Linked DNA regions of Homo sapiens. The protein of the gene in region 1 interacts with the protein of each later gene in a pairwise test. Each region holds a gene or a part of one and is shown on either strand. Other genes may lie near its edges. The genes, in order: ERGIC3, SLC41A1, TRAM1L1 and PAQR5.

The links.
Region 2: the proteins of ERGIC3 (region 1) and SLC41A1 interact in binary tests that used the Homo sapiens proteins (3 or more experiments, as listed by UniProt).
Region 3: the proteins of ERGIC3 (region 1) and TRAM1L1 interact in binary tests that used the Homo sapiens proteins (3 or more experiments, as listed by UniProt).
Region 4: the proteins of ERGIC3 (region 1) and PAQR5 interact in binary tests that used the Homo sapiens proteins (3 or more experiments, as listed by UniProt).

What each region holds. Positions count from the first base shown.
Region 1 is NC_000020.11:35,552,078-35,558,160, reverse strand, and holds the end of ERGIC3 (endoplasmic reticulum-Golgi intermediate compartment protein 3), read right to left. Parts: intron 3,790-6,083; coding exon of another isoform or gene 3,775-3,789; intron 3,118-3,774; coding exon 3,086-3,117; intron 2,129-3,085; coding exon 2,032-2,128; intron 1,955-2,031; coding exon 1,890-1,954; intron 1,189-1,889; coding exon 1,052-1,188; intron 968-1,051; coding exon 912-967; intron 737-911; coding exon 657-736; 3' UTR 527-656; downstream 1-526. UniProt on the Homo sapiens protein: Possible role in transport between endoplasmic reticulum and Golgi. Positively regulates trafficking of the secretory proteins SERPINA1/alpha1-antitrypsin and HP/haptoglobin.
Region 2 is NC_000001.11:205,796,199-205,803,224, reverse strand, and holds part of SLC41A1 (solute carrier family 41 member 1), read left to right. Parts: intron 1-2,164; coding exon 2,165-2,272; intron 2,273-3,394; coding exon 3,395-3,466; intron 3,467-4,123; coding exon 4,124-4,268; intron 4,269-4,409; coding exon 4,410-4,556; intron 4,557-5,173; coding exon 5,174-5,321; intron 5,322-6,221; coding exon 6,222-6,301; intron 6,302-7,026. UniProt on the Homo sapiens protein: Na(+)/Mg(2+) ion exchanger that acts as a predominant Mg(2+) efflux system at the plasma membrane.
Region 3 is NC_000004.12:117,083,032-117,090,538, reverse strand, and holds TRAM1L1 (translocating chain-associated membrane protein 1-like 1), read left to right. Parts: upstream 1-4,962; 5' UTR 4,963-5,145; coding exon 5,146-6,255; 3' UTR 6,256-6,985; downstream 6,986-7,507. UniProt on the Homo sapiens protein: Stimulatory or required for the translocation of secretory proteins across the ER membrane.
Region 4 is NC_000015.10:69,295,045-69,301,935, reverse strand, and holds the start of PAQR5 (membrane progestin receptor gamma), read right to left. Parts: upstream 3,025-6,891; 5' UTR 2,880-3,024; intron 1-2,879. UniProt on the Homo sapiens protein: Plasma membrane progesterone (P4) receptor coupled to G proteins. Seems to act through a G(i) mediated pathway. May be involved in oocyte maturation.

The DNA.
Region 1 (6,083 bases):
CTACTTTCGCACCTCAGTGTTCAGTTTTGCTTCCATCTAGACTGCAGAGGACCTGGAGGGATTCCTCTCTGCAGTGAGAGCCAGCGTGGGGTTTGGCACAGAGTGGGATCAGTGAGTGTGACAGGATCAGGTGTATTGAGCCCAGGGTGGCGGAGAGCGGCCCCAGCTTTACCCATCAATGAAGAAGTGGCAAGCCCCAATATGCACTCAGGGCCCTGAATTAGTGGCCTGGGGTTGATCACTCATGAGCCTGGGGGCCATGGTGGCTCCAGGAAGCTCACGCTGAAAAGGTCCATCTGAGCCCTGGGGCTGAACCCGAGAGGCCTGAGGACCACAGTGGAGGAGGGACCCAGGACAGGGCTGTGGGCTGGACATGAACCTGGTTTGAATAAACCCCGGTTAACTAGGGGATGCCCATGTGGGGCTCCCGAGGGCTCTGGGCCCCGATCTGTCAGTCACAATTGCCTTCAATGAGTGGCCAGGATGAGGCTCTGGCCATGGCAAGGATCACACGGAGACCAGTGAGTACTATCACAATCAATCAATAGATTTATCAACCTGGGGCTGGGGCTGACCGAGGAGGTGGAGGGTGGCAGAGGCTGGGGGACAACCACAGGCCAGGGAGAAAGAGGAGACAGAGGAAGCACCGAGGGTGACTACGTTGTCTTCCCTAGATCAATTTTCTTCTGGATGGCTCGTGCTGAGTGGTAGATGAGCGAATCGATGAGTCCAGCCACTGGGAGAGAGACAAGGGCTGGCACTGGCCCAGTGGGGGCCTTGGCTTTTGACGCTGAGAGCCTTGTCACTTAACTGGCCAGGCCAGCATCTGCCCCTTCACCCCCAACCAAACCTGGGGCACCCAGGCTTTACCCTCCCCACCCCACAGCTCACAGACGCCCTGGGCCTCTTACCTGTGAACATGCCCCCAATGATGGCGCACACACCTGTCAGGAAGTGGGTGAAGGACCTGGTAGAAGGAGAGGGTGGGCTCAGCAGGCATCCTCCTCCCTCAGGCCCAGGCCCCCAGAGGCCGCTTTGCCCCCATCCTCACCTGTGCTTCTCCGTCAGCTTCACCATCATGGGCGAGAGCTCATAGAGGACGAAGACTCCGGGAAGGCCTTGGTCGCCCAACAGCCCATTGGCAACCTTCTCATGTCTGGTCACAGAGAACTGATTTGTCCTCAGTACCTGGGGTGGGAGGGGAGCCTGGGCCAGGGCTAGGGCTAGGACCTGGCTCCAGCCACCATCAGCCCCACCCCTGCTCCTTCCCCTTTCCTGTTGAGCCTTGGCCGTGTAAGGAGAGAACACAGCACCGTGCTAGTGGCCTGCACTGCAAGGCCTGGCCCGCCAGACCCCCTCTCCTAGTCTTGGCCTCAGCCTTCCCCTCCAGGTGCCAAGTCTTTACAGTTTACCTATCCTGGCAGCATTTGGTGGGTGTTCTCACGGGGGTCCAGGCTGAGAAGCAGCTCTCCAAAGACGCACCAAGGCTGACCTGACTTCCTCTGCCCTCAGCCCCTCGCATCCTGCCACTCTGCTGAGATGCTGCTCCACAGGCCAGGGCAGCCTTGGGAGCGGGTACACAGAGACTTGCCTTGCCTAACCCCCAGCCCAGGCAGACCACAGAGAACAGTGAGGCAGGCAGACGGTGGGCACCGGAGGAACGGATAGAAGCGGTGAGGGCAGCAGAAAGAGCAGGCGCTTTAAATCTAACAGCCCCAGGCCTGCACTCTGCCTGGGAGGGCAAATCCCCCACCCTCTCTGTGCCTCAGTCTTTTATTCGCCATGTGAGGACGAGGCAGCTTTCACTCCCCAGGCTGACGGAACGAAATGCAGGAACTCCAGTGCTTGGCACCGCGCAGGAGACTCTGGTAGGGAGCTCCCTGACTCACCTCTCCGTCCACCTTCATGTACACAGTGGGCACCACCTTCACAAAGTACTGGAACATCATGGAGGCTGAGGGGAAAACAAAGCACTGGGTATGGGTGCCCGGCCGGCCTTCTGCGGCTGGGGGCTGCCTCCCGGGCTGGTACCTTGGGGCGCAGTGACATTGGTGTGGTCCAGGGGGTTCACAATGCCTGGATAGTCCTCCCCAAATGACAGGTGCTGGATGTAGTGGGTCATGTTGATCTGTAAACAACACCATCCAGAGCTCATCCAAAGCTCTGATGACAGTAGCAGACAGGGACACCTGGGTCCGTCTGCGGAGATGTGGGAGGAAGGGGAGGCTATGGTCCTAAGGGGACAACCTCCCCGAGATAAGAATCCCCCATTCCCTGCCTAGAAACTCCTCCTTCCACAGCCTGCAAACTCCTGGGGTTCCAGATTTTTCTTTTTTTTTTTTTTTTTTGAGACAAGGTCTCACTCTGTTGCCCAGGCTGGAGAGCAGTGGCATGATCTTGGCTCACTGCAGCCTCGCCTTATTCAAGCGATTCTCTTGCCTCAGCCTCCTGAGTAGCTGGGATTACAAGCATGAGCCACCATGCCTGGCCAGGTTCCAGATTTCTTAAAATACCAGCTTCACTTGTACGTTAGGCACACAGAGTAGCAGGTGCTGGCTTTGCCTGGAGGCCTAGGCTGGAGGCTGTGAACCCCCAGATACACTCCCTTCCTGCTCCCTTGTGTATCAGCCTCAGACACTAGAAGGATCTTTCCTAAAATGCAAATCTGATTATGTCGTGATCCTGCTTAAAGAAGGCCAACAGCTTTCCACTGTTCTCATGAGAAAGATGTGATTCCTCAGCGTGGCCTCTGAGTCCGGTGTGGTCTGGTCCCTGCCGACTTCTCCAGCCTCACCCATCCACACCTGCCCCGCAGTTCCTTAGAAGGGCCATGCTCCCGCCTGACCTTGCGCTGAGGCTCTGTCTGTCTAGGATGCTCTTATCCAACCCCAATCTTGCCCCTAGCCTGCTCAGAGTTCAGTTCAAAAGTCACTCTCGCTTAACCCTCAGGCTGGATCCCCATTCAGAACGTGGTGTATTTTTCCATATGCACTACCCCATCCCAGGATGTTCCTACAAGGAAATGAAGGCAGCAACCAAGCCTCCCACCCCCACCTGCCCTCCATGGTTTCCATCTGGTACGTACGTTGTCAAGGCCAAAGCTCTGCAAGTCATGGACTAGGAGAGAAGGGAGAAGGCAAGGGAGAAGGCGTCATTAGTAGGAGCAGCACTGGCCTCCTCCTTCCTCCCCCTGGACTGCAAACCACCTGTCTTCTCTGCCCCTCATTCCTTCTCCAGCCTGGCACCTCCTGGTCCTGCTTAAGGACAGCCAGAAAGGGCAAGCCTTGGGCCTGTGTGAGAGTTCACGCCCTCCTCAGGAGTCTTTAGAACAGACCCTGGTTCCTCCCTGACGTCCACAGGGAACTCTATGCCTTGACTACCACCATGGCCCTGCCTGCATCTCCGGAAACAAAACCCACCGACTATGGGCTCTCACTAACTAGAGCTGATGGCAAATCACTGAACCTCAAAGTGAGGTGGGATCTGAGAATGCCATCCACACTTTCCCTGCCTCCACCCTCAAAGCTCCCCAGAAGAAATCCCATGGGGACCCTGTACCAACTGTTCCAGAACAATTTATTCCTGCCCTCTAGCCTCAATCCCTCCTGCTGCAAGGAACCATACTTCAAAGATACATCCCAGACCTTTTACAGTCACCCAGCAGCCAGGTCAGAGGAGACCCAATCACAGCCCCATCCAACCTCCCCGCCATTCTAGTAGGGCAGGCTGCCCCAGAAGTAGGGGTTTGGCCTCCATGGGGGCAGGGCCACTTACTCTCCACAGCATGTACTGCAGCATGGGGGAGGGAGGAGAGAGAAGAAAGATTCAGAGCTTCACAATGAGAACTATGAGAGCAAGATATGTTGCAGGAGGGAAGACTGGAACATTCAGCCTCAGCAACACAGTCTGGCCCCAGCTAACAAGCCTCCTTCTGGGCCCCTCCTCGAGAGTGAACTAATCTGGCCAGAGAGGAGCAAAATAGTGGCCTAGAAGGACAAGAGGCCTAGAGCTCAAAGAGCCAAGTTCCTGACTGTGTGGCCTTGGGCAAATCAGTTGCCCTTTCTGGGCCTCAGTGTTCTCCTTTGCAAAGGGCTGTCCTAAGGATCACGTGGGATCTAAGATGGAAAAATACTTGTAAACTTTACACTGTAAGAGATTATTACCCACCCCAGCCCCAATCAACAAGGATGTTAGAAACTCACTCCCAGGCCTCAATTCAGCCAGATCTCTGGCCTTGGGCAACTGTACCTTTGCATTTATACATCCTTCCAAATACAGAGCACCCCCGGCCCGGGGATCCACAAGTCTAACAGTCCCAGGCCAAGAGGCTGCCACTCTGGCTGTGTGTCTACTGAGTGCCCGCCAGACCTTGTGCCAACAGCTTGACACTGATCATCTTCCTGCCCTCCCAGCAAGACCCTTTTCTCCCAGCTTCCTCCAGAGTGAAGAGGGGGTCCCAGAGCTCTGCAGGGTCCTCCAGCCCCCACACTGGCCCCTCCCCAACACAGCCCCACCCCCACAGATTGCCCTGAAGACCAGCAGAGCTACCCTCCAGGGGGCCCTTTCTTCCTGTTCACTTCAACCATTTTGAGAGGCCATCTTCATACCCTGGGCTCTGTCACTGTGCAGCTCTGTCCATCCTTTACTGTGACACCAACTCCCACCTTCCCCAACCCTGCCTTCAACCCCTGGGTTCCTCTTCACTTTCTTGCTTCAGCCTGGCTCTTCCTTTCAGGCACTAACTCCCTGGCATCCCCTCAACGTGCGACTATCTTCTCTCCATACACAACCTCTTCCCTGGCCTAAAGAGAAGTCTTTCTTGCTCCTTACTGCCACTTCCAGATCACTTTCCCTTTATCTGCCTTAAAAATGCACAATGGCTCACATCTGTAATCCCAACATTTTGGGGGGCCAAGCGGGAGGATCACTTGAGCCCAGGAGCCTGGGCAACATGGCAAGACCCTGTCTCTGCAAAAAAAAAAAAAAAAATTAGCCAGGCATGGTGGCATGTGCCTGTGGTCTCAGCTCCTTGAGAGGCTGAGGTGGGAGGATCTCGAGTCCAGGAGGTCAAGGCTGCAGTGAGCCAAGATTGTGCCATGGCACTCCAGCCTCAAAAAAAAAAAAAAAAAAAAAAAAAAAATCCCCAGCTTTGAAGCTCAGGGCAAAGCAGCCCTGCTTGTTTCAGTCACCTAGATATCGATATGGAACCTCCAGAACAGTTTTCCCATGCCATTTTTCAACAGCTTGGGCAACTGCCTGTCACTCTCTCCTGTACTACCTCTGTCACACGTTCTAGTGATTTCCATATCCACGTAGATGATCCTTCCAGTACCCGGGCCTCCCAGTTCCTGGACATCCTTTCCTCCCTGATCTTGTGCTCTGCCTACCCAAGCCACTTGCTCTGTTGGCCATTCCCTAAACTTTGTCATTAACAAAGCCCCTTCTGTGACTTCAATTTCAAGCAACTCATGCTCCACCAGCTTTCTAATTTCCTCCAGTTCCCCAATTCCAATAACTTGTTGACACTACACTCAGGACTTGTAGTCCCTTTTTCCTCCTGCCCCCTCACTGGCTTCTCCACATCCTGTCTTTCCTCCTTTCCTAGCTCATATGCTGTGGTCCAGAATCAAGATGAGTTCTTTACATATTTGACTCCCTCACCTTTGCAGGCACCTGGCAACACCAAACCCCATGCAATTGCAATGTTCTGTTGACTGAGTCCATTCCCACACAGACAACCATGCTGACCGCTCTCTTTGCATTCACAGCCGCGGACTCCAGGGAGGCCCTAGGGCTGCATCAATCCTACTCAATCTCCCCAGTCCACGCACTCTTCCACCCCCAAGTGACCAGTCACATCTTTTCTTCTTTCAAATCTCCAACACCTCCTTCCCTCTCTCCTCATTCTCAACTGAGGACCTTCCTTCCTACAACACGGAGAAGATGGGAAGACTCAGAAGAGACTCTCCATGTACTTCTGCCACACCAGCTACCACCCTACCTGTACCTACAGAGCCTGCCCTTCCTCCTGGTGCTAAGTTTGGACTTTCCACATATGTAAGGCACTAGATTCTGTCTTCTTT
Region 2 (7,026 bases), on another chromosome or scaffold:
TAGTCCCACCAAGAGTGCACAAGGGTTCCAATCTCCACATGCTTTTTTCTTTTCTTGAGACGGAGTCTTGCTCTGTCACCCAGGCTGGAGTGCAGTGGCACTGTCTCGGCTCACTGCAACCTCCAACTCCCAAGTTCAAGCAATTCTTCTGCCTCAGCCTCCCCAGTAGCTGGGATTACAGGTGTGCGCCACCATTCCCGGCTAATTTTTGTATTTTTAGTAGAAACAGGGTTTCACTATGTTTGCCAGGCTGGTCTCCAACTCCTGACCTCAAGTGATCCACTTTCCTTGGCCTCCCAAAGTGCTGGGATTACAGGCATGAGCCACTATGCCCAGCCCAAACTCTACATCCTTGCTAACACTGATTATTTTCTGGGTTTTTAAATAGTAACCATCCTAATGAGTGTGAGGTGATCTCTTACTAATCTACAGTATTGCTCAACTTTATTTTATCTATTTTATTTTATTTTATTTTATTTTATTTTATTTTATTTTATTTTATTTTTGAGACAGAGTTTCACTCTTATTGCCCAGGCTGGAGTGCAGTGGTGCGATCTTGGCTCACTGCAACCTCCACCTCTTGGGTTCAAGCGATTCTCCTGCCTCAGCCTCCCGAGTAGCTTGGGATTACAAGCATGTGCCACCACGACCAGCTAATTTTTGTATTTTCAGTAGAGACGGGGTTTCTCCATGTTGGTCAGGCTGGTCTCAAACTCCTGGCCTCAGGTGATCTGCCCGCCTCGGCCTCCCAAAGTGCTGGGATTATAGGTGTGAGCCGCTGCGCTCGGCCACTGCTCATCTTTAACGACAGAGTGTGGGTGTTGGAATTGCCTTGAAAGACCATCTGATCTGGTCCCTGAATTGAACATTTTTCAAGAGCTTGAGGCCCTTGTAACTTGTCTAAGGTGTCCAGCCGGTCTACGTGAGGAGGTGTACTGGGGAGATAAGCAGGGGGCCATCCCTGCTGTCTCCTGTAGGAGACCCAAGGCTCTTGGTCCAGTGCCCTTGCCAAACATAGTGCTTGGCCTCCCAGCCATGATACGCAGACCAACCCATATATATCCGCCTGGCCTCCTGCCTCCTCCTCCCTCTCCAAACCTGGAGGCTTTCCATTCTTAAAACAAATAAAAGAAACCACCTACCCTGTTAGGGCCAGGGAGGGAGACACAATCCTAAACCTTTTTGCAAGTCCTCAGTTTCAATTGCAAGTAAAGTAGCTTTCAAATAGCCAGTCCTGGTTCCTGCAGTCCTCTTAGCACTAACTAGTGGAATACTGTCTGAACCCCAGTTTACTCATTCACAAAATGAGAATAAAAATAGCCCCTACCTTACTGGGTTGTTAAGATGATTAAAAGAGAAAATACATGGAGAGCACTTAGCCTAGCACACAATCAGTCCTTAATAGATGTTAACCAAAGACATTGGTAGGAGAGCCAGGATTGATTGTCTTGGGACTAGAACTCAGGTCTCCTGACTCCCGGTCCAGGGCTCTTCCTACAGGAGTACACTTGCTTCTCCTAGCTGAGAGATTGAGGAAGGTGTGTGGGGGTAAGGCAGTGCACAGAGAAATAAAAAGCCTCTTGCAGGCCAGCATTCAGAGGTTTAGGGGCCACAGTCTTAATTCAGAGCCTGTTCAGAAGGAGAGTTGCTGTGGCTGAGGCCCAAAGCCCTTGGAGATAGAAACCAAACAAACTCTCTAATCTCCCCAGCCTCGGCCCCAGCCCTGTGGAGCCCAACTCTTCACAGCTGAGACAACAGAGAAACTGGACTGAAGGCAAAGGGGCCAGGGATTGCAATTTGAGGGGGGATTGCAAAGGATTTCTGGGGTGTCAGGCAGCCCAGGGCAGCTCAGCTGTGTGGGTCCCCATTACCCTTCCCCACCCACCTCCAGGAAAACAGAAAAGGTAGGGCCAGACTGAGAGTCTCCCAACCGGCAGAAACCCTCTCCATCTCCCTGGTTCTGGGTGGCAGGAAGGGGGGTTGTGTTGTTTGAAGAATCATGGGCTTGGTTTGGTTCCAAGGTTCTTGGAGGAAAGGTGGCTGGCGTGCTCACTCCCTGCTGATTCTATTTCCTCCTCGAGCCCCTGATCTCAGACTACCTGTTGAACCTCAATGCCCGCCCTTTGGGGCACTGAAATTCCTGGGTTCTGTTTTCACCTCGTAGCACTGGGAAGTCTTCCAGAAGGTGACAGAGGTCTTCATCCTAGTGCCTGCGCTGCTGGGGCTCAAAGGGAACCTGGAAATGACCCTGGCATCAAGGCTTTCCACTGCAGTGAGTATCCTGGCTGGGAGGAGTGGGGCACAGAGAGGACTCTGGGCAGCACAGAGCCAGAGACTGGGAGAGGGCTACGAGCCCTTCTCCACTGCCCAGGCCTGGAGTGTGGGGCTGGGGTGGGAAGGGAGGGCCTGGCTGGGCAGGTGTAGGGAGATCCCAGGCTGGGTGTCCTGCTCCTGGGCAGGGGCTCCCTGCCCAAAGTGGTTCCCAGGCTTGGTTTCTGGATGTCCCAGCCACCCCTGGACTCCTGCCCCACCCCCTACCTCTCAACCACCTCGTGACTGTTTGTGCAGCTTTGACAGGCAGGCATCATGCTGGTTCCTCCACCCGCACAGATGGGGGCCTCCTCTGATCTCCAGCCCCTGCTTTGCAGCTGGGCGGGAGCAGAGCCAGGCCCTCCCAGCACCCCCAGCCCCCCGGCCATCCCATTCCCTTTACCCATGGCAGCTTGCTCTTCTTTAAGGAAACAGACAGAGAGGAGCTGCTCGTCATTCCTACCTCCCACAGTTGTGAGCCGTGACGATTCCGGGCCTGAACAGATACAGGGCCCTGGGCTGGAGGTGGGAGATGATAAAACTCAGGAGGCCAGGGATCTCCCTGCAGGGTCAAGAGTCTAGAGAAGGTGACAGACAGAAGTGGCATCCAAGTTAACCCACCCTGACTTGCCATACCCGACTTCTGGCCCATGCCACCCACTCCTTCCCAAATACTCTTGGAGCCTCAGTCCTGCACCAGCAGCTGACCTTTCCTTCCCTGGGATCGCAGGCTGGCTTCAGAGTCAGGGACTGGGTTGTTCTGACCCATGCAGGAATGGGCTGCCCAGATAAGCAGGGCAAAGGATAGAATTTGCCTCTGCTCAGCTGGTGTCCTGAGAGGAAGAGAGGCGACTGCCTAGGGGACCCCCTTCCAACCCCCCACCCAGCTGCAGGAGCCCAGCTTTAGCTCCTTCCCTTTCACCTCAGTTTCCCTGATCCTGCTTCACCTTTCCGGGACTGTCAGGTCCTGCTCTCAGAGTCTTAGGCCACATGTACTGCCTCATGATCTAGGCAGGAGCCTAATGGATGGAGCTTCAGGCCTTTTCCAGCCTGAAGCTCCAGCCCCTTGCCCTCCCTTTCCCAGGCCAACATTGGACACATGGACACACCCAAGGAGCTCTGGCGGATGATCACTGGGAACATGGCCCTCATCCAGGTAAGAAGGCAGGGACCAGAGAGGGTGGGCTAAGCTTCCCCTTAGTCAGGAATCTCTGAAAGGCTTAGGTCAGCCCCAGCAGGCTCCTGAGTGAATCTCCAGTATCCCACTGAGCTGGCTTCCCCCAGAGTAGCTCTAGGAGGTAACTAGGTTACCCAGGAAAACGCCCAAGATGAGGAGGGCCCAGCATCACCCATTCTGGTTCTCAGTTCTTGGTGGTGCACGTGCCTTTGAGTCCCAGCAGATCCTGGCAATATGAGCAGACTCAGGAGTGCTGAGATGTCCTGTGCCACTGCTGTCCCATCTCCCCATGAGACCACACAGGTTCAGACTGGGAGCCTTCCCCCTTGAGGCCCAGGCCTTGACTCTGGGTGGAAGTCTCCGGCTCTGTTGAACCTCACTCCCATCCCCAGAGGCACACTCATTCAGCCAGTAACATGTTCTGGGCTCCTGCAGAGTGCACTGCCCAGTACTAGTGGCTGGTGTGAACCTAAATAAATAAAGACATCCTTCCAGCCTGGGAGGACTGGACCATGCAGTCCAGCCTGCCTCCTGGGGCTACTGCCAGCCAGGAAGAGGTCTGCCCAGATGCTTATGACCTCAGCTTAGGAAGCCCACTGCTCTCAGGGCTTTCTGAGTTACCACTCCTGTCCCCAGGTGCAGGCCACGGTGGTGGGCTTCCTGGCGTCCATCGCAGCCGTCGTCTTTGGCTGGATCCCTGATGGCCACTTCAGTATTCCGCACGCCTTCCTGCTCTGTGCTAGCAGCGTGGCCACAGCCTTCATTGCCTCCCTGGTACTGGGTAAGAAAGGGAGGGCATAGAGGAGTAAGGAGTGCCGCCCCAGAGAACACTGCACCTGGCACTTCCACTCTCTCTTTTTGTTTGTTGAGACTCCTTTATCTCTTCTCACCCTGCCTGCCCCTCCTCCCACTTGCTCACCAGGTATGATCATGATTGGAGTCATCATTGGCTCTCGCAAGATTGGGATCAACCCAGACAACGTGGCCACACCCATTGCTGCCAGCCTGGGCGACCTCATCACCTTGGCGCTGCTCTCAGGCATCAGCTGGGGACTCTACCTGGAACTGAGTGAGCCACCAAGAGTGTGGCTTCTTGGAGTCCTGGGTGGGGTTGGGAGAGATGGTAGTAGTTTGCAAATGTGCAAGAGTTTCTTCTGTGTTCTTAAACTATTTGGTTTGAACACAGGTTGTAATAATTCCTGATCTTAGAGATTTGAAGCTAAGTACTGATCTCAAATTCAAGCAGGCATCAGGGGCAGGGGAAAAGTATCAGAAGTATATTCCTGTGTGGTCCTGCAGATTCTTACTTCTCTTGGAGGGATGAGGTGGAAAGGGTAAAGGAAAGGAACCAGAGGCTTAGATCTGCTTGCAAAATGAAGAAGCGGGTGGGAGATGGTGTTTTCTGGGCTCCAATCAAGAGACCTAGAGTCTCTGTCCTCTGGTCTCTGTCCCTAATTGGCTCAGTGCCTGGCTAGCTCTCTCCCTTGGTTTCCTCATCCATAAAATGGAAAAGGCTTGTCCCACCTACCTCCTGAGCTGCCAGTGAAGATCAAATGGGATAATGTGTTTACTGGCATTTAGTGTAGTCTTGCTATTGATCTGTTGGGACATTTTCAGGCTGAGCCAGGGAGAAACTTAGGGTAGGGAAACACAGTGCTTATCTCCTTCTGACCTCTGCCCTCTCAGATCACTGGCGATACATCTACCCACTGGTGTGTGCTTTCTTTGTGGCCCTGCTGCCTGTCTGGGTGGTGCTGGCCCGACGAAGTCCAGCCACAAGGGAGGTGTTGTACTCGGGCTGGGAGCCTGTTATCATTGCCATGGCCATCAGCAGGTAGGCTGGGGCCCTGAGTATCCACTCCTACCCCACTCCAACCCTTCCACAGACTTCTTTTTAAACCCTGGAGAGATGGGGTGGGGGTCAGACCCTAGAAATGTGTTCATTAGTGTTTCAGTCACATGTCCTTCTGTTGAAAATGACAGAAACCATCTGAACTGGGTTTCATTCCAAGGCAGAATGTATTGGCCTGGAGAACCAAAAAGGCACAGCTGAATTCAGCGACATACCTAAGATCAGGGCCCCAGTACTCTGTGACTCTTAGCTCTGCTCTTCTCTGTCATGGCCTACAGCCCAGGTTTATGCTTTTCTTACTCCTACAAATTCCAGTGGGAAGAGAGATTCTTCCCCCAACAGTTCCACAAAGTCCCAGAATAGAGTTCCACTGCTTCTCATCTGGTGACATGATTATCTCCAAACCAGTCAGCGTGGCCTTGGGGCTGCAATCCTCTGATTGGATGGACCTGGAGCCTAGCTATCATTGAGGCATTGTCACCTGAGCCACAGTCACTGAGCTTGAGAGAGGTGGTTCCCTGTGGAGGAGCCCAGTGCTATCACCAGAAAGGGAAGTAAATGCTGAGTGGGCAGAACAACAGAGGTCCTCAGAGGCAGATAGTCCTGCAGGCTGCTCCTCCGGCCAACTTAGAGGGCAGGTACAGGAGGTGGTTGCCTGACCCAGTACCACCAGCTTGTTCTGGAGTCACTGTGCCCAGTCAGAATGTTATGAGCAGCACCTAATCCTGTCAAGGGAGGCAAGGACTGGATGGTGAGGAACTCCTGAGAGCCATGGTGCTTCCCTTCATCTCCAAGGATAGGTGGGCCTGGACCTCTCATCCCAGAGACTAAGGCAGAACCCTTCAGTGGTCTTTGCGTCATTTTGTCTTTATGTCTCTATAGTGTGGGAGGCCTCATCTTGGACAAGACTGTCTCAGACCCCAACTTTGCTGGGATGGCTGTCTTCACGCCTGTGATTAATGGTGAGGTCTGGGCATCAGCTATCAGAGGGCAGGGCTGGGGGAAGGAAAGGGACAGGAGAAGAGGACTTAAGGGGTTGGTTTCTGTATCAGTCAGGGTTCCAGCAGACGAGAATCTAGCTCAGATGGTTCAAGACCTTAATGAAGGGACTGCTTACAGAGGTGGGAGCAGAGTAAAAGGACAGATAAGGGATGTTGAGGCACCGAGAGATTAGCAGCAATGGGAAGCCTCTACTCCTAAAGGGTCAAGGGGAGTATCATAGTCCATTATCTGTTGCTAGAACAGAATACTTGAAACTGGCTAATTTATAACGAAAAGAAGTTTATTTAGCTCACAGTTCTGGAAGCTGGGAAGTTCAAGATTGAGCAGCTGCTTCTAGTGAGGGCCTCATGCTGCATCCAAACATCCAAATGGAGAAACAGAAGGAAAACTGGGCATGTGCAAAATGGGCAAAACAAGAGAGGCAAACCTCGCTTTATGACAACCCACTCTCATGGGAACTATACCTTTCCCAAGAAAGACATTAATCCATCTTAATAACCTATTCACTCTTAAAGGCACCACCTCCCACCACCACATTTGGGGACCAAGCCACAACATGAGTTTTGTTGGGGACAAACTATATTCAAACCATAGTAACGAGGGAATAGCATTATAGGAGTCCAGTGAAAGCTCTGTCTTTGCCCCCAACATGGGGAAGCCAATGCTGAAAAGCAGGGAGGGATTG
Region 3 (7,507 bases), on another chromosome or scaffold:
TGATGGGGGCTTGCTTTCTTGCCTAGGCTGGTGTCAAACTCCTGGCTTCAAGGAATCCTCCTGTCTCAGCCTCCTAAAATGCTGGGATTACACATGTGAGCCATTGCGCCCAGCCAATGATAAAGGTCTTTAACATTAAGAGAAAGGATAGTATAGGCCAGGCACTGTGGCTCATGCCTGCAATCCCAGCACTTTGGGAGGCCGAGGGGGGTGGATCAAGAGATCAAGAGATCGGGACCATCCTGGCCAACATGGTGAGACCCAGTCTCTACTAAAAATACAAAAATTAGCTGAGCATGGTGGTGCGCACCTGTAGTCCCAGCTCCTAGGGAGGTTGAGGCAGGAGAATCGCTGGAACTCGGGAGGCAGAGGTTGCAGTTAGCTGAGATTGCGCCACTGCACTCCAACCTGGTGACAGAGCGAGACTCTGTCACAAAAAAAATAGAGAAAGGACAGTATAAAATACTCATCTGTTTAAAGTGTGCCAAAAATATTTGGGCAATTATAATTTAATTTTTAATATTTCTAATACTTATTAATTTCCAAGCAATTAAAGAGAAACACATGCTTTATTTCCAGACTATCTAAATGAATCATATAAACTAGCTATGTATAAGGATTATTAGTCTCTGAGCATATGTTTTAAAGCACAGATTCAAAGATTAAAATACAAGTATGTTAGAAGTAAAAAATTTCAATGGAAGTTTACCTTTAGGGAAACACTAAAATAGCTCTGGTGTTGTGTGACCCTTAGGTAGGTCTACATCATCACACCTTGAGGGAGAATCTGTCAAGGATTCAAATAACTGTAAGAATCATTTTTTCTCTGTAAAACTAGGGAATACAGGCATTTCCAATGAGAATTAAAATAATTTTTATCTGTATGGGTAGTTTATTAAAGTTGGATTGTTTTGGTCAGAAAGTTGATAAAAGAGTTAAAATACTATTGATGTTTTCATCTATATTAGCACTGATATATAAGGATATTACAAAAATAATGCTAAAATGATCTTTTCTTTATTTTTCATTTGGTTTTCATTTTTTGTGTAAGTGTATATATACACCCTTAGTGAGTTAAGAAAAATTTGAAATTCCATATGAATCATTAGGGAGGCAGTGATTCCATCAAGGAGGAAGTAGATTTTTTGAAGACATCATCAAGCTGCAATTTAACGTTCCTACTAGACACCAAATAGAAACACAGCAGCATTGTTTTTTCATGTAAAAAAAATGTATAAGGTGGTTTTTCTGTCATATGTCATGCCATATATATTATACAACTGAAATTTTGGAAGAGTAGTAGAATCAGAGGAATATTCCACATCAGTTACTTCACAGGCAGCAACCAAAGAAATATTTTATATAAACAAAGAGAGACGAGAGAGAGACTGTTTTAAAAAATACAATAAAAAATACAACAGTTCAGTGTAATGTTTGCAAATTACAATTTATACAACGGCCTTTTTGTAGTTTTGCAGCTTCCACAAATAGTATATCTCACAAAAGCTGAAGTAATCCATTAACACAATACTTACAATGTTTAGACCTTAGACCAAACTTTAAATTCCTTAACCCTGGCCTACAGGCATTATAAGAAATGCCCCCTAATGATCTCTGTTACTTTATCAATCATCCCTCTCCCTTACTACATTCTTGTCATCCTGGCCCCTTTGCTGTTCATGCGACAATCATTCTTGCTCTTGCCTGGTAACGTTTGAACTACGTCCTAGGATGTTTCCCTCCAGACATTTGTATAGTTTACTTTAACTTCATGTACATCTCTATTCAAATATCACCTATTTAGAGAGGCTGTCCCTGCCCACTCTACCTAAAATAGTTATCATCATTTATGCTTCATCTTCTTATCCACATTTTCTTCCCAGCAATTTTCACTGGCTATTTGCAAACACATATTTGTACTGTTTGTGTCCTCTAGTTCTCCCTGATTATTATGTAAGCTCCATGAGGATGGGTATAAGGTTTATTTTCACCCATAAAAGGGGCAATTGAAAAAATAAATTACTAAATATTGATTTTAATTTTATGAATTCTTACATTTTAGTGGGAGACTGACACTATTAACCTGTTCCAGGAGTTTATCCTTAGATAGTGCTTCATATTTTTTCTTGGTATGTTACTAATAAATCCATGGGCAAATAAGTATTCTAAAAGCTGTAAATATTATGTTGAGTTTTCCTTATTACGATAAATATTTAGCCATATTGCATAGGGTGTGTTCTTCTAAAAGCTCATGTTTTAACATGTCTTATCAATTACAAAAATGACTTTAAAATAATAAATATATCTTTAATTAAATTATTTAAAACTTTAAGTCAATCAAATCCCAAGAGACTTTGTAATTTCATGCACAAGATAAACTGTATTTTTTTGCTTAATTGAGCTAAGCATTTGGTGAGCTCAGTCAATTATAAATGTTAATTATAAACATCGATTTAAAAATCAGACTTGGGTCTGATATTTTGAAGTTCAAAGCAACATTTCTTGCTTCTTCAAATGCAACTGAATTCTGGAATATTAATGTTCAATTCAAGTAATTGAATAATCCAAATTTAAATTATTAAAAGGTTGGTATTATAGAGATATACACATATATATTATTCTTAGATATAAAAATATTGAAAAGTGAGGCTACCTCTATATTATAATGTTTCTTCTGTACTTTACTATTTTAGCAAAATCAGAATCAATGTCAGTTTATATTTTAAGGTAATTATTTTAAAAGACACATAACTAATTTAAAAGAGCTTTTTATAGCTAAGCTATTCATATAAATAATATTGAGTTATAAAATACAGACATCAAAAGGTTGTATTGCATAGCTAACAGCAAGAACTAATTATTAACACCTATTTGAAATACAGTACCTTAACTATCGTGAGAACTTTTATTGATATTTTTAAATCAAATGTTTCTTATAACAAAATCAATATAGCATTTTAAATAGATAATTCGACCAATGCCTGGCAATCGTCTGAATACATGAGACCAAGAAAGATTGAGGATAATCAGAAACTGATTCATATGTTGTTCTGTTGATTCCACCTGTAAACTTGTTTATTCAACGTTAATTCCTTGAAGTATTAATGTGTAATTAATACTCCAGAATTAATTCTATAATCAATGACTATTACATGACAAAGACAAAGATAAACAGTATTACGTTAACACTATTTGGCTTCTAGTGTCTTTTATCTTTTAATATATGCAAGCCAACATACAGAAACAAATCAACTTATAATATTTAATCCATGTTTTAGGGAAAAAAATCTTTCACCATTTCCTAGAAAGGAAGATTGGACTCAAACCAAAATCTAGGAACTTTACCTGGATGTATCTTATAGTTATTATTGATTATTGACTGCTGTGTGCATCCATTTTCTCACTCGTAGATGGAAGTGTCTGTTGCATTTTTCCTACGCTTTGGGTGTGTGGGAGCCAAAAACTTTATTCTTTTAGTTCACAAGTCTTCAGACCAAGAGTAAGTACAACAAAGGATAGGACTTTCCTTTATCTGCTCCTGGATCTGATTTAGCTTACAAAAATATCCTGTGTAAGAAGCCTGAACCTGATGCTATATTGATATGAGACTATTGTTTGCATTGGAAGGAAAAAGTGTATATTTCATGTCAGAGGAAACAAAATTTATTCCCAACGGAAAGGATGTGGCTATTTTTAAAAAATTAGCAAATACTAGGTACATTTCTCATTAAAAGTTGATGTGTATGGTCCACACCCTCCCCTCCATCCTCACTCCACCTTGAAGTAAAACAGGCTTGTGCCTACCTTGGTATTGAAAATTATATAATATAACTTCTAATACTAGGTCATAAAAGGCCATTTACTTTCTGTCTTGCTTGCTAGAAATCCCACTTTTGGAGCATTAAGCCACCCTTTCATGCTAATGCCAACAATGCACCTAGAGGCCATAAGTAGGCATTCTGGTAGACAGTCCTAGAGTACCTTAACCTTTTCAAGGCTTCTTATAAACTTTGTGTTTATAAGCATGAATTAGCTTTATCCTTAGGGCAAGTTTAGCCTTACTTAAAACAGTGTAGCTTTCCTTGGATCTTGTCTGAATGTTGCAAGTGTTCAATGAGGATTCTACTTTCTGGCTGTTCCAGTCTTGAAAGTTTCCAAATCCTACGTGAAGTCTTGGGAAACTTCAATTCACAATTCCTCCATATATGCAAAACCTACACAAATGACATATGAGGTTCTTTTCTGTTATAATGAAGAAATTAAGTTTTGAGCTTTGTAGCCAAAAAGAGACCTTTCCATGAACTAATACATCTCTCCCTCTAAGTGCCAGTCTTTCAAAATACTGGCTAGACGTTATCATTTCAAACATTATTATTATTGCAAATAGGGGAACTAGTTTTAATATGCTATCTTGTTGACCTAGTAAATATTTCCAGGTATAATTGATTTACAATAAGAGACAATACAGCGTAATAGTGAAAAACAGGCGCTCTGGAGCCGGACTGGATTTAAATCTTTGCTCTAACCCTTACTAGGGAGGTGAATTTGGCCATATTACTTAACCTCTCTGTGCCTCAGTGTTTTGTCTCTTGAAAAGGGGTGGGGGAGGGGAGATTATCACAGTATCTACCTCACTGGGTGTTTCAGGAAAGTTAAATTCATAAATATAAATAAAATGCTTAGCACAGCAACTGGTAATTAGTACTGGGAGTTTGCTGTTATTATTATGCTATTGTTGTTATAATTAATGATCTGAAGAATAACCAGAGCTCTATAGGTTTATCATGATTACTAATGAAGATGCCACTAAAAAAAAGAATTCAGGAGCATCTTGGCGGTGGCAGCGAGTTTGAAGATGCGACGATCAACGTTGAAGATCACCGCTCGCAACCCCGGGCCTGGCGCCGGGTAGGGGCGCGGCGCTCGATTTCCTTCCCTGCCTCCGCCGTCCCCCTGGTGCGCATGCTCAGCTCAGCTCGGCCCTCGCCTTTGATTTATTTTTTTTCTGGGCGGCCGCTGCGACCCGGGACTGACTTCGGGATGGGAAGTGGAGCCCCCGGAGCTGCTACCGTGGCGGCGGCGCTGTGAGGAGCAGCCAGGGGGAGGCAGCTGCGGCTCGCCGGTGAGTATCCGGGAAGCGCCACCATGGGGCTCCGTAAGAAGAGCACCAAGAACCCCCCCGTTCTCAGCCAGGAATTCATCCTGCAGAATCATGCGGACATCGTCTCCTGCGTGGGGATGTTCTTCCTGCTGGGGCTTGTGTTCGAGGGAACAGCAGAAGCATCCATCGTGTTTCTCACTCTTCAGCACAGTGTTGCTGTCCCTGCAGCAGAGGAACAAGCCACGGGCTCAAAGTCCCTCTATTATTATGGTGTCAAAGATTTGGCCACGGTTTTCTTCTACATGCTGGTGGCAATCATTATTCATGCCACAATTCAGGAATATGTGTTGGATAAAATTAACAAGAGAATGCAGTTCACCAAAGCGAAACAAAACAAGTTTAACGAGTCTGGTCAGTTTAGTGTGTTCTACTTTTTTTCTTGTATTTGGGGCACATTCATTTTAATCTCTGAAAACTGCCTGTCAGACCCAACTCTTATATGGAAGGCTCGTCCCCATAGCATGATGACATTTCAAATGAAGTTTTTCTACATATCCCAGTTGGCTTACTGGTTTCATGCTTTTCCTGAACTCTACTTCCAGAAAACCAAAAAACAAGACATCCCTCGTCAACTTGTCTACATTGGTCTTCACCTCTTCCACATTACTGGAGCTTATCTCTTGTACTTGAATCATTTGGGACTTCTTCTTTTGGTACTGCATTATTTTGTTGAATTACTTTCCCACATGTGCGGCCTGTTTTACTTTAGTGATGAAAAGTACCAGAAAGGCATATCTCTGTGGGCCATTGTGTTTATCTTGGGTAGACTTGTGACTTTAATTGTTTCCGTACTCACTGTTGGGTTTCACCTGGCTGGATCGCAGAATCGGAATCCTGATGCCCTTACTGGAAATGTAAATGTGTTGGCAGCTAAAATTGCTGTTCTGTCGTCCAGTTGCACGATCCAAGCCTACGTAACATGGAACTTAATTACTCTCTGGCTTCAGAGGTGGGTAGAAGATTCTAATATTCAGGCCTCATGTATGAAAAAGAAACGGTCGAGATCTTCTAAAAAAAGAACAGAAAACGGAGTGGGAGTGGAAACTTCAAATAGAGTAGACTGTCCGCCAAAGAGGAAAGAGAAATCTTCATAATCTTTGCAAGCGCATTGATTAATGTCTGCAAAGGAATCTGCTCTTTGAGGTTTCTTTCTGCACTAGAGATTTTTCTGTTTTTGAAAATAGTTCGTGCTCTTCGGTTTTTGTTATTGAACTGTTTCATGTATTTTTTAAAGACATTTGAGGGGAGGAGGATTATTATGAATGGGAAAAAAAGATTTTGGTTGAGACTAAATTACTCATCGTCAAAATAATGTCAAAATAGTTTTGGGGATCACCACTATATTTTGTTTTGATTTTTAACCTTTCAACATTTTCCTAATGATTTGCAGAGATAACTGCACAATTTTGCATATCAATGATACTGGTTCTTACTCCCACCAGTGTTTCATAATACTAACAAGATGGTCTCTCCTAGCAAGATTATGTGTTTAATGCTTGCTTTGGGGTAAAATAAAAGTACGAAAAAGGTGGAAGTCAAATCAGTATTCTGTAATTGTTAGAATTTATTTTTTAAGAACTTACAACTCAGAAAAGATTGCTAGACTCACCAAAATAATAAATGTTCTTTATTTTACAGGTAGTGATTATTAGTGCTTCATCCCCATTTAAAAAAACACAGTACTAATGGGTAACACATATGGAGGTTTGCTGCCATATATATTGCATCAAAATATCATTAATTAATATAAAAATATTAAAATCATTCCTGTCCATTCCACTTGTAAATGGGAATTCATGAAATTAAATATTACTTTAAAAAGGACATTGAACTTAGTCTTTTTTAAAAATGTTTATTAAAAATGATTCCTAATGAGGCCTTGTAAGATCAGTAACCACAGCATCTTAGAAAAATATTGTTTGTATACCAGGTTGAAAAATAATACTTGGCATGTGTATAAAAAAAGTCAGCTAATTACATTTGGAAAGCATGTTATGCATCAACCTTCAATAAGTTGAAAATCAGATAGTCACATGAAAGGCTTTTGAAAAATAATGTTGTGATTATTTGTCTTCATCTTTAATTGGGGAACATTTATCTGTATAAGACATATTTTGAAGATTATTTACATACACATGTATGTATAATCTGTATCTTTGCAGAAGCCAATGGAAACAATGGGAATTAGTGGGTGAGTATTTATACGTATTGCCTCTCAATCCTTATTTCAGTTTTATTTCCATAATGTGTTTATATAATTTTTCAGTAAGACAGTACTTTACAAATATGCTAGGGGAAGGCCATATATTTCCTATTCCGTTATATTTTCTCCTACTATGTCTCTCA
Region 4 (6,891 bases), on another chromosome or scaffold:
CAGTTTCCTGCCACCATTCTTGACTCCTAACACTGTGCTAAAAAAAAAAAAAAAAAAAAAAAAAAAAAAAAAAAAATCTCCCCCCATTTCTTATGAATTCACAATTTTTCTCTTCCTGTACGGATCATTTTTGAAAACATGTCTTGTAAACCTTCTGTGTACTCAGGATGAATGAGGGATGCCAAGATGCTGAGAAAGGACTTACCGCCAACCAGGGAGGCCAGGCTAATACACATGAGAAAATAACAATCCGCTCTTACAGTTTGATTTGCAGCCCACAGAGTCCTTTGGAACCACTTACTATCTCCTAAAACCACACAGGGTCTGTTGCTCTCATTTTACAGATGAGGAAATTGAGGCCCAGAAAAGCACCTTCTCTTCCCTCAATACATAGCTGCCCCATGGAGTGGTAAGGAGAGAGAGGAGACAATGAAGATTAAAGTTTCCAAATAATTCCAATTCCAATTCTTACCCCCAGAGGGATGCATAAGAATTCTACGTAAAGGGACAAAGTTGCTCTGCCTCAGTCTAGGGTAGAGCCAAGCTTGGCATGGAACCCACCAGCCTCGGCCTCTCCTTGGCGGGACAAGGGTAAAGTGAAAGTCCTCTGTCTCTCTGGAAAAGCACATGGGGGCTGGGTGCAGTGGCTCACGCCTGCAATCCCAGCACTTTGGGAGGCCAACCCGGGTGGGTCATCTGATGTTAGCAGTTCGAGACCAACCTGGCCAACATGGTGAAACCCTGTCTCTACTAAAAATGCAAAAATTAGCTGTGTTTGGTGGCAGGCGCCTGTAATCCCAGCTACTCGGGAGGCTGAGGCAAGAGAATTGCTTGAACCCGGGAGGCGGAGGTTGCAGTTAGCTGAGATCTCGCCCTTGCACTCTAGCCTGGGTAATAGAGCAAGACTCAGTCAAAAAGAAAGAAGAAAGAAAGAAAGAAAGAAAGAAAGAAAGAAAGAAAGAAAGAAAGAAAGAAAGAAAGAAAGAAGGAAAGAAAGAGAGAGAGAGAGAGAGAGAGAGAAAGGAAGGAAGGAAGGAAGGAAGAAAGAAAGAAAGAAAGAAAGAAAGAAAGAAAGAAAGAAAGAAAGAAAGAAAACGAACTAAAGGAAGGAAGGAAGGAAGGAAGGAAAGAAGGAAAGAAAGAAAGAAAGAGAGAGAGAGAGGGAGGGAGGAAGGAAGAGAAAGAATGAAAGAAAGAAAGAAAGAAAGAAAGAAAGAAAGAAAGAAAGAAAGAGAGAGAGAGAGGGAGGGAGGAAGGAAGAGAAAGAATGAAAGAAAGAAAGAAAAGAAAGAAAGAAAGAAAGAAAGAAAGAAAGAAAGAAAGAAAGAAAGAAAGAAAGAAAGAAGGAAAGAAAGAAAGAAAGAGAAAGAAAGAAAAGCATACGGGATTAAGGATGTACTCTTGGTGTAAGGGGAAAATGTTGCCCCACGTGGGTAAGGGTGCCAAGGGATCTCAGTGGTGGGGCTGGACACCTTTCTGATCCAACTTTTCAGAGTGCCCTTTCTGCTTGCCAAGGGCAGAGATAAGGCAGTTGGAAAAGAAGCTTTGCTGTTGCAGGCTAATCATTCCATTCTCGCAGAGCACCTTCCGTGTGCCAGGTACTATTGCTACGGCAGGGAACAAAGCAGGTCCCTGCAGGGAACAAAGCAGGTCCCTGCCCTCCTGCAGTTCTGGGAGCTTAGCAAGGCTCTGGCTGGCTCTTGGAGGACCTTACTGACTGGAGTTTGTGTCTGCTTGGAGGTGCCCTCTCCCCTGAACCTCTTTCACAGGCAGAACCTAGGGGGGTGGGGAGTGGGGTAAAAGAAACAAACCTCTGCTGAGTCAAGGGCACTGCAAGAATGCAGAAGCGACCATGCAGCTCTGGAAGGATGCGGTGGGAAACCCGCCACTCAGTGGTGGAGAAAAGCCCACCAGTTTCTCCAGCAAATGGCTGAGCTTTGTTGGGCCTCCTTGTCTTCTCATCTGCCCATGTGTTAATATCTACTCGCCATTGGTTTGTTAGGTTCAAATGAAATCAGGGATGTGTCCCTTTTTGGCTGCTAGCTCTTCTCAGATCCCCTGACCTCTCCCCATCTCTTCTCTATGGCTCTGCGTGGGAAGGGGCAGTTGTCACCCCCGACTCCCACTAAGCTGAGCCCTCCTCCCAACCTAAGCGGGAGGAAGCCGGTTCTGCTCACGGATAAGAGTTACCGGGCTCCTGAGTTCTTGTTCTGCTGGGCCGGGGTCCACCCCCTCTCCTGGGCTCATCCGACTAGGACTTGGGAAGTGCTAGGGGAGCCAGGAGATGCCCAGCTGGGGGCTGTGGCCGGGGGGAGGCCAATGACAGAGCAGGGGGAACTCCCTGTAGCTGGGCACCCACTTCAACAGGGCCGGGACGACCCCCGCAGGCAGTGGGCCGCCCCTCACCCACACGGTCCTGCTCAGCCCAGGCTCACATCTGGGCTCAGGAGGCGGGAAGCACAGGTGTAAAGAAATCGCCAACTGTGCAGCCCCAATCCAAGGGTTTTATTAAAGTGGGGGCGGCGGGAGGGGGGCGGTGGAGGAAGGATAAGCGGCGCAAACGCCCTGGAGAGTGAGAGAAAAGGTGCGAGAAGGCAACAGCTCCCCTCACCGCCCTCGATTGCAGCAGAGAGCCTTCTGCACGGCGGCGGCCGCCCCACCTTCACACCGGCCCCGCGTGCGGTGAAAGTGGCCGAGCCGCGCCGCCGCCGGATCAGGGCCGCCCCGGCACAAACTTTCCCAGACCCGCCCTCGGAGCGGCCACCCAGGCTCAACGGGCTCCACGGGCGCAGGGCGGCTGGGGCTGCCGCGGAGGGCGGGTGCGCGTGGACCGGGAGGTGGGGAGGCGGCGCGCGGCGGGGAGTCCCGCCCCGGGTTACCTGGGTTCCAAGGGTCTCGGGAGTCCAGTGGACAGGGCGCGGGGACAGCACAGGCAGGCCGGAGACCAGACACTCCTCCCGGGCTGCGGCGACCCCGGACTCGCGGGCCCTGCACCTGGCCCTGCGGGTCGCCGCGCCTACCCATGCCGGTCCCCGCCCGTCCCCTCCCGCGCGGGGCGGGGCGGCCCCGGGGGAGGAGCCGAGGGCCGTGGGCACCACCCCCTGAGCCAGGCCTGCGCCTCATCACGTGCCACCGACCCTGGGCTCTGTGACTTCCAAAGACTCGCCACCCCATTCCACAGCCTGAGGTGCCACCAAAGCCATAAGCCCAGGGGAGTCTCTCACACCCCATTCTCCTAGGGCCCATGTACCCCACGCCCACCTCCACCCCAGGAGCCGAAGGCCGGCAGGGAGCCTGGAGAGCCTCCTTGATGGGAGAACTGCGGAGCTTGCCCCTCGGAAAAGTGCATGGGGTGGAGAACAGGGAAGGAGAAAAAAACAACAACTGGGTACTCGCAGCCCCACCGCGGTGTCCGCTTCGCCGGTGGGAGAGGATCCTCGCCGCCCTGAATCCTTGAAGTGAGTTCCACCCCTGTCTCTTGGAGTGCTCAGGGTGGCGGGCCCTTTGCCAGCCCTCACCCTTTCCCCAGGGATCCTGTCCCAGGTCACAGGCTCCTAGACTGGAAGGCGCTGGGCCTGGACCTCTGCCACTCAGTGGACACAGCTATAAGAGATGAAGGGACACAGAGGACAAAGAAGAAACATTTGGCTTCAGGGAACCAGACTCTGTGTCTCCTCCCAGGTGCTGAAGGAACAGGTTGCAGCTACCTGGTGCCCCCACCCCGACCCTGCCAGAGAAAGGTTGGAACATCCACACCTGTGGACCGAAGTCCCCCACCAGGCTCTTTCCTCCCACCCTTCAGCCCCAGGCTCTCTGAGCTCCTGCTCCTCCCTGCCTTGCCTTGTTTGCTGAGGGCACACACAGTGGAGAGAGCACAGGACTGGGAGTCCAGAGACCTGGGCTCTAGTCTACTCTGTGACTCGGGTCAAGTCTCTGGCCCTTTGTGGGCCCAAGTTGCCCCATTTGCAGTGAATAGGTTGCAGTCAATTATCTCCGGCCATTTTTACGGATCCTGAACCGTGGTCTTGGGCACCTTGCTTTATTAGGCTTTTTGGTGGCTGTGCATCTTGTAAGGGTGTGTATGCATGTGCGTGTGTGTGTGCGTGCGACATGCGCTTGTCCTCTCAGACCCAAGTTCTTAAAGGGAAAGAGACTGGGGCCTACACAGAGGCAGGCATGTATATTCCACAGACCAGAGTTTGACAAGAATGACTGGACACAAGAGTGGAGCCCAGTCCCAGCTCTATGCTGAATTCAGAGTAGCCTTGGACAAGACCCTCACCATCTACAAAATGGAGATTAATAATCCCTGCTTTGCCTTTCCAAGGCTAGTCGGGGGACTCAGTGAGATATTAGATATGAAGCTCTTTGAAGGGGAATAGCACAGGGATGTGTGCTTTTGATGTCTGGGCCAGTGATGGGTTTGGGGGAAGAATAGGGTGTGAAGCATTCTCTGGGAGGCAAAGGCTGGCACTGGACTGATTGGCCACCCTGCCAAAGCTGCAGCATGCACAGCACAGGCAGGCACCCCACCACCAGCAGCCAAGGTGAGCAGAGATGCCTGGTGCCCCACCTGGATTCCTGCCTGCTGTAGGTATCTGTGTGTGCACCTTGAAGAAACTAAAGAGGGAAGATAAAGAGGCTCCCAACCTAAATGGAGGTGGTCAGTGGATTACTGATGAATCGATCTGCATATCTTGGCCAAAATCACCCTCCTCTGCTCTTAGGGAGTTTAAAGTCTAACTGAATGATTGAACATGAACCCTTTGGAGAATGATGTGGAGCCAGGAGAGGGGATTGTGGATGGTGAGCACACAGGATGATCAGAGGAGGGGGAAGGGCAGGGAGGGGCCGGGGAGGGGGGTACTTAGACCACATGGAGATGCATTTAGAGTATTGTGTTCAACACTCCTATTTCATAGTGATGAAATGGAGGCCCAGAGAGGGAAAGTGACCTGCCCAAGGTCACACAGTCACAAGAAGTCAGTAGCAGAGCTAGAACTTGGACCCAGGACTTCAGGAATCTATGCTGGATTTGAGCCTCCTGTGCAGCCGAGGGAGACCTGAAGTGTGGGAAGGACTGGGATACGTACCAGTGGGCAGGAAGAAAGAGTGAGGCAAAGTGCAGAGGTGGGAACTTTGTACAGCAAGGGAAAGGAGCTGGAATCACAGGCAGGATCTGGAAGGAGGGAGCTGCCCAGACCTGGAAAGCCAGGCTGAGCACTGCAGACCACAGAGGGTTTCGAGCTGACACCAGTTGGGAAGATACAGGCGTGCGAGGGGCACACGCCCAAATGACCCAGTGAGACAGCAGGTGACATGACAGCAAGGCAGCAAGGAGACGGGGAAGAGCAGCTCCAGGAGTCAGGCAACCTCCAATCAAATGGCCTTGAGCAAGTTGTCTCTCTTCTCTGACCCTCAGTTTCTTTTTTGTGGAGTGAGAGATAATCATCTTTTTTTCCTTTCAGGGTTATTGTAGTGACCACAGAATGCATTTGGAAGTGCTCTGTAAACTGCAGAGTGCTAAGTAAATTTAATATTTGGAGTTGTGTTTTATTTTCCAAAGGGCTCAGTAAACATTTGTGGAACTGACTGATATTGGATTGGACACTCTCCTCATGGCAATGGGCAGAGGGACCACAAACGGAGGGGGGCAGGGATTGGGGTGGTCAGAGGGAGTCCTGGCAAGGGTGTGAAGGAAGGAGAGCTTCAGTCTTAAATGTGAGTCTCCCTCTGACATCTTTACAACATAACTCAAAAAGCCTTTTTGGGGGGAAACAGTCCTACCCCAATCCATGTGACTCAAAATGCCCCATCTCTTCCTTTGCCTGTGTGTTCAAGGGGCGCCATATCAGATGTCACTATTCTATGTGTTCTTCACCCATCCCCACTGGCCATCTACTCCTCAGGCACTCACCAGCTCCTCCTGGGTGGGCCCAGACGTTATATTTGTTTACAAGGCCTTGTTGGATAGCAGAAACGGTACTACAGAAACCATCGCCCTTAGTTAATATGGCAAGATTCAGGTCCCTCACATGTGTTCTCAGCCCCCTGGCACCCAACTCTACCCCAATCCATAAGTCCGCTCACGCCTCCCCTCTCCTTGGCAATGGAGTCACCAGGGCAGGGCTTACTGCCCCACTTGGCAGATGAGAAAACGGAGGCTAGGAGAGAGGCGCTGCCTGGCAGCGCGAAACCTAGAACAGCCTCACCCACACCGTCAGAGTTGCCCTGCTGATGAGGCCATTATCTCATCAGGGCTGGAAGTATTTGCCTCATTTGACAGAGGAGGAAATGGGCACTAAGGGCAAGGACATGCTTTACGGGAACTTCTTGCAGAGCTTTCTTTTCTGCCACTGTATCCAGATAAGGGGTCCATGTTGCCAGTGGTTTCCCAGTGTTGCCGTGACAAATTATCATGCACAGCACCTTCAAACGACAACTATTTACTCTCAGTCCTGGAGGCCAGAAGTCCCAAGTCGGGGCATTGCAGAGTTGTGCTCCCTCTGAAGCTTCCATGGCTCCCTCTGACCGCTGCCCATCCCTGCCCCCTACGTTTATGGTCCCTCTGCCCATGGCTGTGAAGAGACACCATGCCCAATCCAACACTGGTCAGTTCTACAAATGTTTACTGAGGCCTTTGGAAGATAAAACACAACTCCAAATATTGAATTGGCTTATCACTCTGCAGTTTACAAAGCCACTTCCAAATGCATTCTGTGGTCACCACAATAACCCTGAGAGGGAGAATCCTTCCTTGTCTCTTCCAGCTTCTGGTTCCCAGCATCCCTGGGCTCGTGGCAGCATCACACAATCTTGCCTGTCTTCACATGCTGTCTCTGTGTGTCTGTGTCCTCTCGTCTCTGTAGAACAGCAGTCACTGGAGTCAGG